Linked DNA regions of Homo sapiens: region 1 is linked to region 2. Evidence: fine-mapped expression QTL. A gene starts in region 2. The other region holds a variant in brackets. All regions are shown on one strand. Distances are between the middles of the regions.

What was found. PIP is the estimated chance that this variant, and not a neighbour inherited with it, causes the effect.
Region 1: its variant is the best candidate, but not a certain one, in a credible set for the expression of PROC in whole blood (INTERVAL, PIP 0.66).

The regions. Positions count from the first base shown.
Region 1 is chr2:127,453,633-127,458,021 of GRCh38, reverse strand. LOC124907884 (a long non-coding RNA gene) reads right to left here and starts at 2,363. Exons shown (of 2, transcript XR_007087229.1): 1 at 2,133-2,363; 2 at 101-1,856. The variant T/C (reference allele first, on the strand shown) is at 2,325.
Region 2 is chr2:127,415,762-127,420,131 of GRCh38, reverse strand. It overlaps PROC (protein C, inactivator of coagulation factors Va and VIIIa), which reads right to left and starts at 1,705. Exons shown (of 9, transcript NM_000312.4): 1 at 1,640-1,705; 2 at 120-210. The coding sequence starts at 189. RefSeq lists enhancers at 3,542-3,601, 3,982-4,370.

The sequences.
Region 1 (4,389 bases), 38 kb before region 2:
TAGGAGTTGTTTAATTTCCACATATTTATGAATTTCTCAAATTTCCTTCTATTATCGATTTCTAATTTCATTCCATTTTGATCACAGAACAGACTGTGTGTGATATCAGTCCTCTTAATTTTATTGAGGCTTGTTTTATGGTTTAGCATTTGATGTTTCCTGGCAAATGTTTCATGTGCTCTTCAGAAGAATGTGTGTTCTGTGATTGGGTGTTCTGCAGTGGTCTGTAGGTGTAGCTTGTTCAGCCTTCTGTTTCCTTGCTGATCTTCTGCCTAGCTGTTCCGTCCATTATTGAAAGTTGGGCACTGAAGTCTTCAACTACTTTTGTTAAGTTGTCTGTTTCTCCCTTCAGTGTTACCAGTTTTTGCTTCATGTGTTTTGGTGCTCAGTTGTTTGGTACATTATGTTTATAATGGTGTGTATTCCTGATGGATTGATTTTTTTAGTCATTATAAAGTGTCCTTTTTTGTCTTAAAGTCAACAACCGCTTATCTTAAAGTGGCGAAGTCCAATCTTTTGGCTTCCCTGGGCCGTGTTAGAAGAAGAATTGTCTTGGGCTCCATGTAAAATACAATAATGATAGCTGATGAGCTAAAAAAAAAAAAATCTCATAATGTTTTAAGAAAGTTTACAAATCTGTGTTGGGCTGCATTCATAGCCATCCTGGGCCACGGGTTGGACAAGCTTGACATAAGGGAGGGTAACATGGTGTGTGCCATTGAGAAACTTCCTGGAGAGACATGACCATGGGAACCGACCTGAGAAGTTTACACAGGCAGTGGAACACAGAAGCAGGGGTTCTGCTCCCGCACACTCCTCCAGCCCTCCGCGTGCCCCGCAGCCCACCGTGCTTCACCACCACCTGTTCTCAGGCAGCCCGTGCACTCTCTCCTGTGTGCTTTGAGTTGGTGTTCCTTGTGTCTACTGTTCTTCCCTTTCCCTACCTCGCTAACTCCTACATCTCATCTCACTAAAATAAGATGCATGTGGCCGGGTGCGGTGGTTCACGCCTGTAATCCCAGCACTTTGGGAGGCCAAGGTGGGCAGATCACAAGGTTAGGAGATCGAGACTTTCCTGGCCATCGTGGTGAAACCTTGTCTCTACTAAAATACAAAAAATTAGCCGGGCATAGTGGTGCGTGCCTGGAGTCACAGCTACTCGGGGAGGCTGAGGCAGGGGAATCGCTTGAACCCAGGAGATGGAGATTGCAGTGAGCCGGTATCACGCCACTGCACTCCAGCCTGGCGACAGAGCAAGACTCCATCTCAAAAAAAAAAAAAAAAAAAAAAAAAAAAAAAAAGATGCGCATATCGGTGCTTTCCAAAATCCAGTCATTGGCAAGCCACATTTAAGATGCTCTCCACATCTAAGCACTATTTGTGATTCAAATCAGTTTTAAAACTCATTCCTTTAGCCTCACTCTGAGCAATCATATTGGTGAAAGTTTGGTTTTCTCATTATATTTTTTTGTAATGCACATTTAGATGCATAAGTAAAAAATTAAAAATTGGTCCACATTCTACTTCAAATCATTTTGCATGTGATACATATGCCATACTTTTGACAAGACCTCTAGCCTGCCTGACGCACAGGGAGCACTGTGAAAGATCTTTTCTTGCTGTAATTAACATCTGTGTGGGTTAGCTGCAACTTACCTGCCGGGAAGCCCTTCTGGGTGACCCCGGAAGTCTCACTCCGCTCCCTCCCCTGCACTGCTTTGAACACGTCTCCAATTTAGTGTTTTCTTAGACCGCAGACGTTGTAGTTGTTCACATGTCTCTCTCTCCGTTAGACCATGAGCTCCCTGAGGGCAAAATGATGTCCTTTTCTCTTCTCCCAGCATCGATAACGGTACCTGACAAATAGTAAGCATTCAGTAAAATTTTGTTGAATGAGTTTCCATAACTGCATTGTAGTATAATTTCTCTTTCTGTGTGTGTCTTTTCTCTGATGAGACTGTTCTAGGAATTTTTATGCCACTCAGTGCCTGCTCACAGCAGGTGTCCAGTAAACTCATGCAAGAATGACTGTATGAACAGATGAACAATGAACAAATGTCAGATATGTCACTCTCAGCCCTGCAGCTGGTAGCAGTTCCCCAGAATCTCCATCTTCCGATAGTGGTCCCCACCTGTGTCATTGTTAGAGGCTGTCACTACTGGTCACGTTCCAGGGTGAACCCAGCCTGTCTTATTGCTCTGTAATCCATCTTCCTGTGGAATGTGGTAATTAGCATGTTAATGAGCTCACAAGGAAACAGTGTTGCAAGAAGAGAGGTTGTTTAGCCGGATGCAGTTGCTCATGCCTGTAATCCCAGCACTTG[T/C]GGAGGCTAAGGCAGGAGGATTGCTTGAGTCCAGGAGTTTGAGACCAGCCTAGGAAACATAGAGAGGTTGATATCTGCAAAAAAAAGTAAAAATTAGCTGAGCCTGTGGTCCCAGCTACTTGGGGGCTGAGGTGGGAGGATCACCTAAGCCTCCAGGGGTTCGAGGCTGCCAGACCCTGTCTCAAAAAAATACAATTCATTTAGGGAATCAGGACAATCCTAGGATGAAATGCAGACTGTGACAAAAGAATCCAGCCATATGAAACCAGCTCTCTGAGAAAGGGTGGGGGTGAGCCTGTGGACTTCGCACCCCTGCTTGAACTAAGTGAGCTGTGACAGGCAGTAATCCTTCCATGCCCCGCCTCAGCGGTAAGGTAGCATGTTTACCACCTGCACCACGAGGGGAAAGTTCACCCCTGGCACCCACCAATAGCGTGAAAGACTTGGGCTTGTTCCGTGAGTTACATAGTGACTGAGGAGATCCATTCCAATAATGGGGTGCACATTGTAGCAAAACCAGGCCAATACTAACAGTTAAGTGGGTAATTATCCCTTTAATTAATCCTCCCAAACCATTCCCCTTGGAAGGATTACAGCCTGTCACGCTGACTTAGTTCAAGCAAGGGTACAAAGTCCACGGATCCCTTTAAAGCATGAGCATTTCCTGTAATATGAGATTTGGTCACCCAGTGTTGTTTATTTTTTGGAGTCCAGATTACTATTTTTTTTTTTCTTTTGAGACGGAGTCTTGCTCTTGTCATTCAGGCTGGAGTGCGATGGCGTGATCTCGGCTCACTGCAACCTCCGCTCTTGGGTTCAAGCAATTCTCCTGCCTCAGCCTCCTGAGTAGCTGGGACGACAGGTGCCTGCCACCACACCCAGCTAATTTTTGTATTTTTAGTAGAGATGGGGATTCACCATGTTGGCCAGGCTGGTGTCGAACTCCTGACCTCCAGTGATCCACCTACTTCTGCCTCCCAAAGGGCTGGGATTACAGGCATGAGCCACTGCGCCCTGCCCAGATTACTATTAACGTGGAGAAAGGTAAAAGGGCGATTGTCTACCAGAAGGGTCTGTTTTCCATGAACATGGACCACTGGATCCGTATGGGGGACACGGCCAGATATGAAGGAGGGGCTGTTTCCAGAGGAGACACCTGCTGAGAATTGTCGTCTAACCCTAGTAATTATTGGAACTGTTAAACCAATTTACTAGAGATCATCCAATCTTGAGCGCCCCCCTCCTTAGGATCCAAAGTAACCTTTCTTGTTCATTGCAGGGTTCACATTTAAGGAGATGCCTGGCTGTAGGAAGCTTGTCTGGCTTAGGAGAGGGGAAGTCTTACTGTTCATAGTAATTTGGATTTAGGCCAGGTAGGGTGTTGTTTGTAGAATTCATGGGCAGCACTCTGAGTTTGTCTTTTCTAAGTTTCCAGTAAGTCCAGGCAGCTATGGCCCCTTGAATTGTCTTAGTATTAGTATCATTGCCCCTGAAGAGGACTTTGTCGGAAGCTCTCCTAAGAAACAAGCAGATGGAGTCAGGACTCCCTTAAGCTGCTCAGGGCTTGCCACACCATTGTGTTGCATTCAGCCTGTCGTCTGATAAGCCCACTTCTACATCCCCAGCTGACCAAGACCTTTGGCCTCAGCTAACATTTTCCATTGACAGTCTGCCCAAACCCTTAAGACCCTATGCTAACATAGGGTCAGCAGCCTTCCAAGCCTTAAAAATCCCCATCAACAAGGTATCTGTGGGCCAGGGTCCAAAGCCTTCGCTGGGGGTCATTCCCACCTTCCTCACTAATTGTGCAGGATGCTTTTGCAGGGACACCATTTTTCCATTCCATACTGGGGCAGCCAGCCATTGAGTTTCAGCCCTTTAGGTGGAGCTCCCTCCCCGCCAGAACACTCTAGACAGCCAGCCAGCCCCTTTGTCTTTGGTTCCTGGGTTAGGAGAAACAGGGCCACAGGGCGAGAGAGAAGATGTTTTCTCCTCCAGGCAAGAGTTGTCCCCTCCTTCTTGGTCCTCCCTTTTTGTCTTCTCAGTTGTTATTACTTTGCTGTGG
Region 2 (4,370 bases):
TGCCCCTCACCTCACCCAGGGCTCAGAGAGATGGTGGAAGCTGTGAAGGCCTGGGCAGATGCCCACCAGGGCCTTGTAGAGGCCACAAGGGTCCCGGGGTAGGGGTGGGGTGGCCTTACCAAGAGGAGCTGGTGTGCCGGAAATTCCCCAGGTGGCCACGAACAGCAGGAGGCTTGTGAGCTGCCACATTCTGGAGGCACTGGCACCTGTCTGAGGAGGACTTCTGAGCTCCGGGCAGTGCCTACCCCCGCTGCTGCTCTGCCTGCACCCCCAGGTGGAAGCGGAATGAAAGGGCTGTCCCTGTGTGCTGGCCGTCAGGGCGGAAGCTGGGATTGAGGGTCCTTGTTCGCTAGAGACATAGCCTCAGAAGGCCTCGGCTGCCCGCTCTACGTGGGGCTGAGCTCACACTGCCTGCCTAGAAAGCAGCTCCAGAATGCAGTGGAGAGGGTGCCAGGATGTTTGTGTCCTCCCTGGGGACAGTGGGGTGGCTGCCTCTGCCGGTCTGATGACTGGGCTGAGAATATTAGCTAACGTTGATTGGACACTCATGGTGTCTTTCAAACAATTTTTACAGGATTCACAGGGCAGGCCATGAAGCCAGACTGCACGGTGCAAATTCCAGCTCCAGCACTTACTGGAGGGCAATGTTGGGCAAGATGCTTAACTGCTCCATGCCTCAGTTTCCTCATTTGTAAAATGGATGGAATAACGTGGTGTATCTGTGCCTTAAAGGGTGTTGTGAGAATTAAAGGAGTTAGTCCACATAAAGCTCTCAAAACAGGCTTTGCACATAGCTCATGCTCAGTAAACATGAGATATTATGACTTCAGTTAAGGCTCACAACCACCCAAGAGGTAGTTATTAATGCTGTCAACCCCATTTCATAGAGGGGGAAACTGAGACTCGGAGGAGTTAAGTGGTTTATTAAAAATCCAACCCTTGCTGGTCTCCGTTGATTGCACAGGGAAGTCACCAACCCAGGGGATCGATCAGATTCTGTCCCCCATCCTCCAGGAGTAGGGTCTCACACCATCAGTACACTGCAGGCACCAGACTCGGAAGACTGAGGCAAGGTCCTGGGTCTCCATGTTTACATCCATGCATTACTCGCAGAGCCAGGACTCAAGGCCAGGCCTGTGTGGTTTTAGGCCTGGAAATTCAACCCCTGCCCCAAACCACCAGGTGCTCCAAAAGGCCACAGAGATAGCCCTGGTGGCCAGAGATCAAGGAACCCTCCCCAGTGGATAGGCCACGTGGCCCTCTGCACACCCTACCGGACCCTGCTCTCCATTCTTGCCGACTCCCTCTGAGGCCACTTCTGAGATTTGTTCAAATCCGACACCCCCAAAGGTGGAAGTGGGGTGGGGAGAATGGAGGGTCCTGGGCTCCAAACTGTCTGTTGGAATGGCCCTGGGCCCTGGGGACCCTTGGCCTGGAAAGAGGGAGGCGCATGGCAAAGGGACCTGAGACTGTGGCTGCCAGGCCTGGCCTGTGGAGGGCCTTGTGTCCTTTCACCCCAAGCTCAGGCTTGTTGAGCACCCTGGCTGGAGGATTCAGCCCTCATCACCACCTAGCTCTCTTCTCCCGGGGGCAGCCCTCCCTCCACACCCCTCATAGACCTGCCTGGAGGGGGACTCACAGGGGCGGGTCGTGGAGATACTGCAAGTTCGCCGTCCTGCCGCCATGACAGCCTGGAGTTCGAGTTAATCCATAACCACAAATATTTGCTTGGCCCTCAGCACTGAGGCCTCCCTCTCCATAGACAAACAGTGGCACTAGCACTCCTGGTCCTAGCTCAGCACGGCTTGTTCTGCCCGAAGCCCACCTCTGCCCACCAAGGATGCCGTCCAGCAGGGAGGGAGGTGAGGGCAAAACCCTTGACAGATGTGGTCTCATTTTAGCCCCATAGTGGCTGGCTGAGGGAGGAACGTTGTCCCTGTTTTTCAGATGGGGACATTTTTGCCCAGAGATATTATAGTTTGCCCAAGATCAGCACAACAGGTAATATTCCATATTTCGTCAAATCTAAAATACCATTAATTATAAGACACATGTATTTATGTGCCACCATACAAGAAAAAAGACGCTGTCCCAATGACATGCCATCCCAATTTCTGATACATAAAATCATGAGAAGATGCTCCTTTTTGGGTCCCCAGTGCATAGGTGCTGGGCACTGGGCTCCACCCTCACCTCCAATTGCTCACAAATCACCCCCAATCCCCACCCCCAACACACACACACAATGGCACATAGCATCCCTCTAACCTCTATTTTTCAGGTAAGGACACTCAAGTTTTGTGTTACTCGCCCAGATTCACTGAGCTGGTAGTTGGCAGATTTAATTTGAACTCAGGTCTTGCTGCTTCCATTTGGCCCCTTTTGTGGACCAGTAAGAAAAATGAACGGGATTCCAGAAAGGCTGCAGCAATTTCCTGGCCGGGGTGCCAGAAGGGAGAAGGGCAGAAATAAAGGGTCCAGCTCAGCACCTTTGCCTGTGTCCTGCAGTCTATCAGCATTTATTAAGCGTCTTCCTGCTCCGAACCGGGCTGCACCAGAGATGCCCCCCTTTCCTCCCTGCCCTACCTGTTCCTGGGAAGACTTGCCCACGTTCCTTCTCCAAGTCTGCACCTCTAAACGGGGCATGTGACCCTGCCTCGCTGGCTTCCATTGATTGCACAGGGAAGTCACCAACCCAGGGGATTGATCAGAGGAGTAGGGTCTCACACTGTCAGTACACCATAAGTACCAGACTCGGAAGATTGAGGCCAGGTCCTGGGCATCCATGTTTACGCTTAAAGCAGAGGAAGCTGATGAGAAGGAAGATGCAGGTGTGCAGAGGGGGACTGAGGCCACGGACACCTAGAGAGTCCCAGGGAGCAGCGGAAGGAGGCCCCTGCCTCCTTATGATTGGTGGCACATCCTGGCTTCGGGTGCAGGAGGGTCCCCATGCCCTCCTAAAACCCTATTCCTCCTGAAGTTTCTTTAAATTGGCTGGAACAGCTTGTGTTGATTGTAACCAGATGCCTCCTGCTGAGGCACCACACCATGCTGGGCTGTGGTGGTACCAGGCCCTCCTAGAGGAACAGGGTAAAACTCTAACACTCTAACAAGTCAGGCCCACCTTGCCCAGGGGCAGGTACACATAGGAAATGCTTACAGAATTCAGAGGAGAGGGCAATCAGTACAAGCTGGCATAGCCAGGGGAGGCTGCCTGTAGGAGGTGACACTTCAGCTGGACATCAAAGAGCAGACAGGAGGAAAGACATCCCCCCCAACCCCACCCCAGGTTGGGAGACAGTGGGGAGACACAGAACACAAGCAGTCAGGAGGTGCTAGGAGGGGTGGAGGTGGAGAGGAGGTGGAGGGTGAGGCAATGGATTTTGAAATCGAGACTATGAGAAGTGGAGAACCAGGAGCTGTTTGTGACAGGCTGTGGCAGCTGCCTAGAAAAGCAGAGACAAGCTTCTGGGAACTCAGACAGGAAGCATGAAGACCCCATGCACAACCACAGAAGGCACCAGCTTGTATGTCCCTGTTTGCTTCAGGCGTCGCCCCCGCAAGTCTGCAGAGATCACTGCCCTCTGCTTTGCCTTCCAGGTGCAAGATGTTGTGGGTATTCTTTTGGCGCCGCTTCCCTTCCCCACCAACTTCTCGCCCTCTACTCCTCCCCACCCCAGCACAGGCAGCCGCTCCAGGGCAAGTCTATGCAGGCTCCACACACTGATTCTGACCTGCATAAATGGACTCTGCCCGGGGCACCCATGTCCAAACCAGCCCAGGTGCCCAAAGCACCGGCACCGGTACGAGCCAGGGCGGCTGCAATGCTCCCAAGTGCCCAGTGCTGGGGGTTGGGGGTGCCACGGCTTGGCAGGCTGCCCAGAGGGCGGAAGGGTCCTCTGCAGAGCTCTGCACGCCTGTCGGCCGACGGGGACTCTGCACGGCGGGCTGCGTCACGGCCGCCTCATCGGCTGGCAGCGCAGGAAACCCCGTCACCTTCTCGAGGTAGGGACAGTCCTGCCGCCAGCCGTTCCTGCGATCCCAGGGTCTCTGCAGTTACACCTGGTTCCAGCCGGGGGCGCCGCGCCGCACCGCTCCTGCGGAGGAGCCAGGCGCCCTTCACAGGCGCGGCCTCACCCGCTTTACTTGTCAGGTGTGAGTCGCCCCACGTGCACCCGAACGCGGTCAGGTCCACCCAGGAAGCCGGAGCAGGACTTTGGGCAGCGAGCTCGCTGTGAGTTAGAGAGCAGAGGGACACCTGTGGCTAAGGAATTCGCTGCATGGATGAAGACCCAAGCAAAGGAGCTAGAACCAAATGTGTGTGGGGCAAGGCCAGCCACAACTACCGGAGCAGGCGGGGTTCCAAAGCC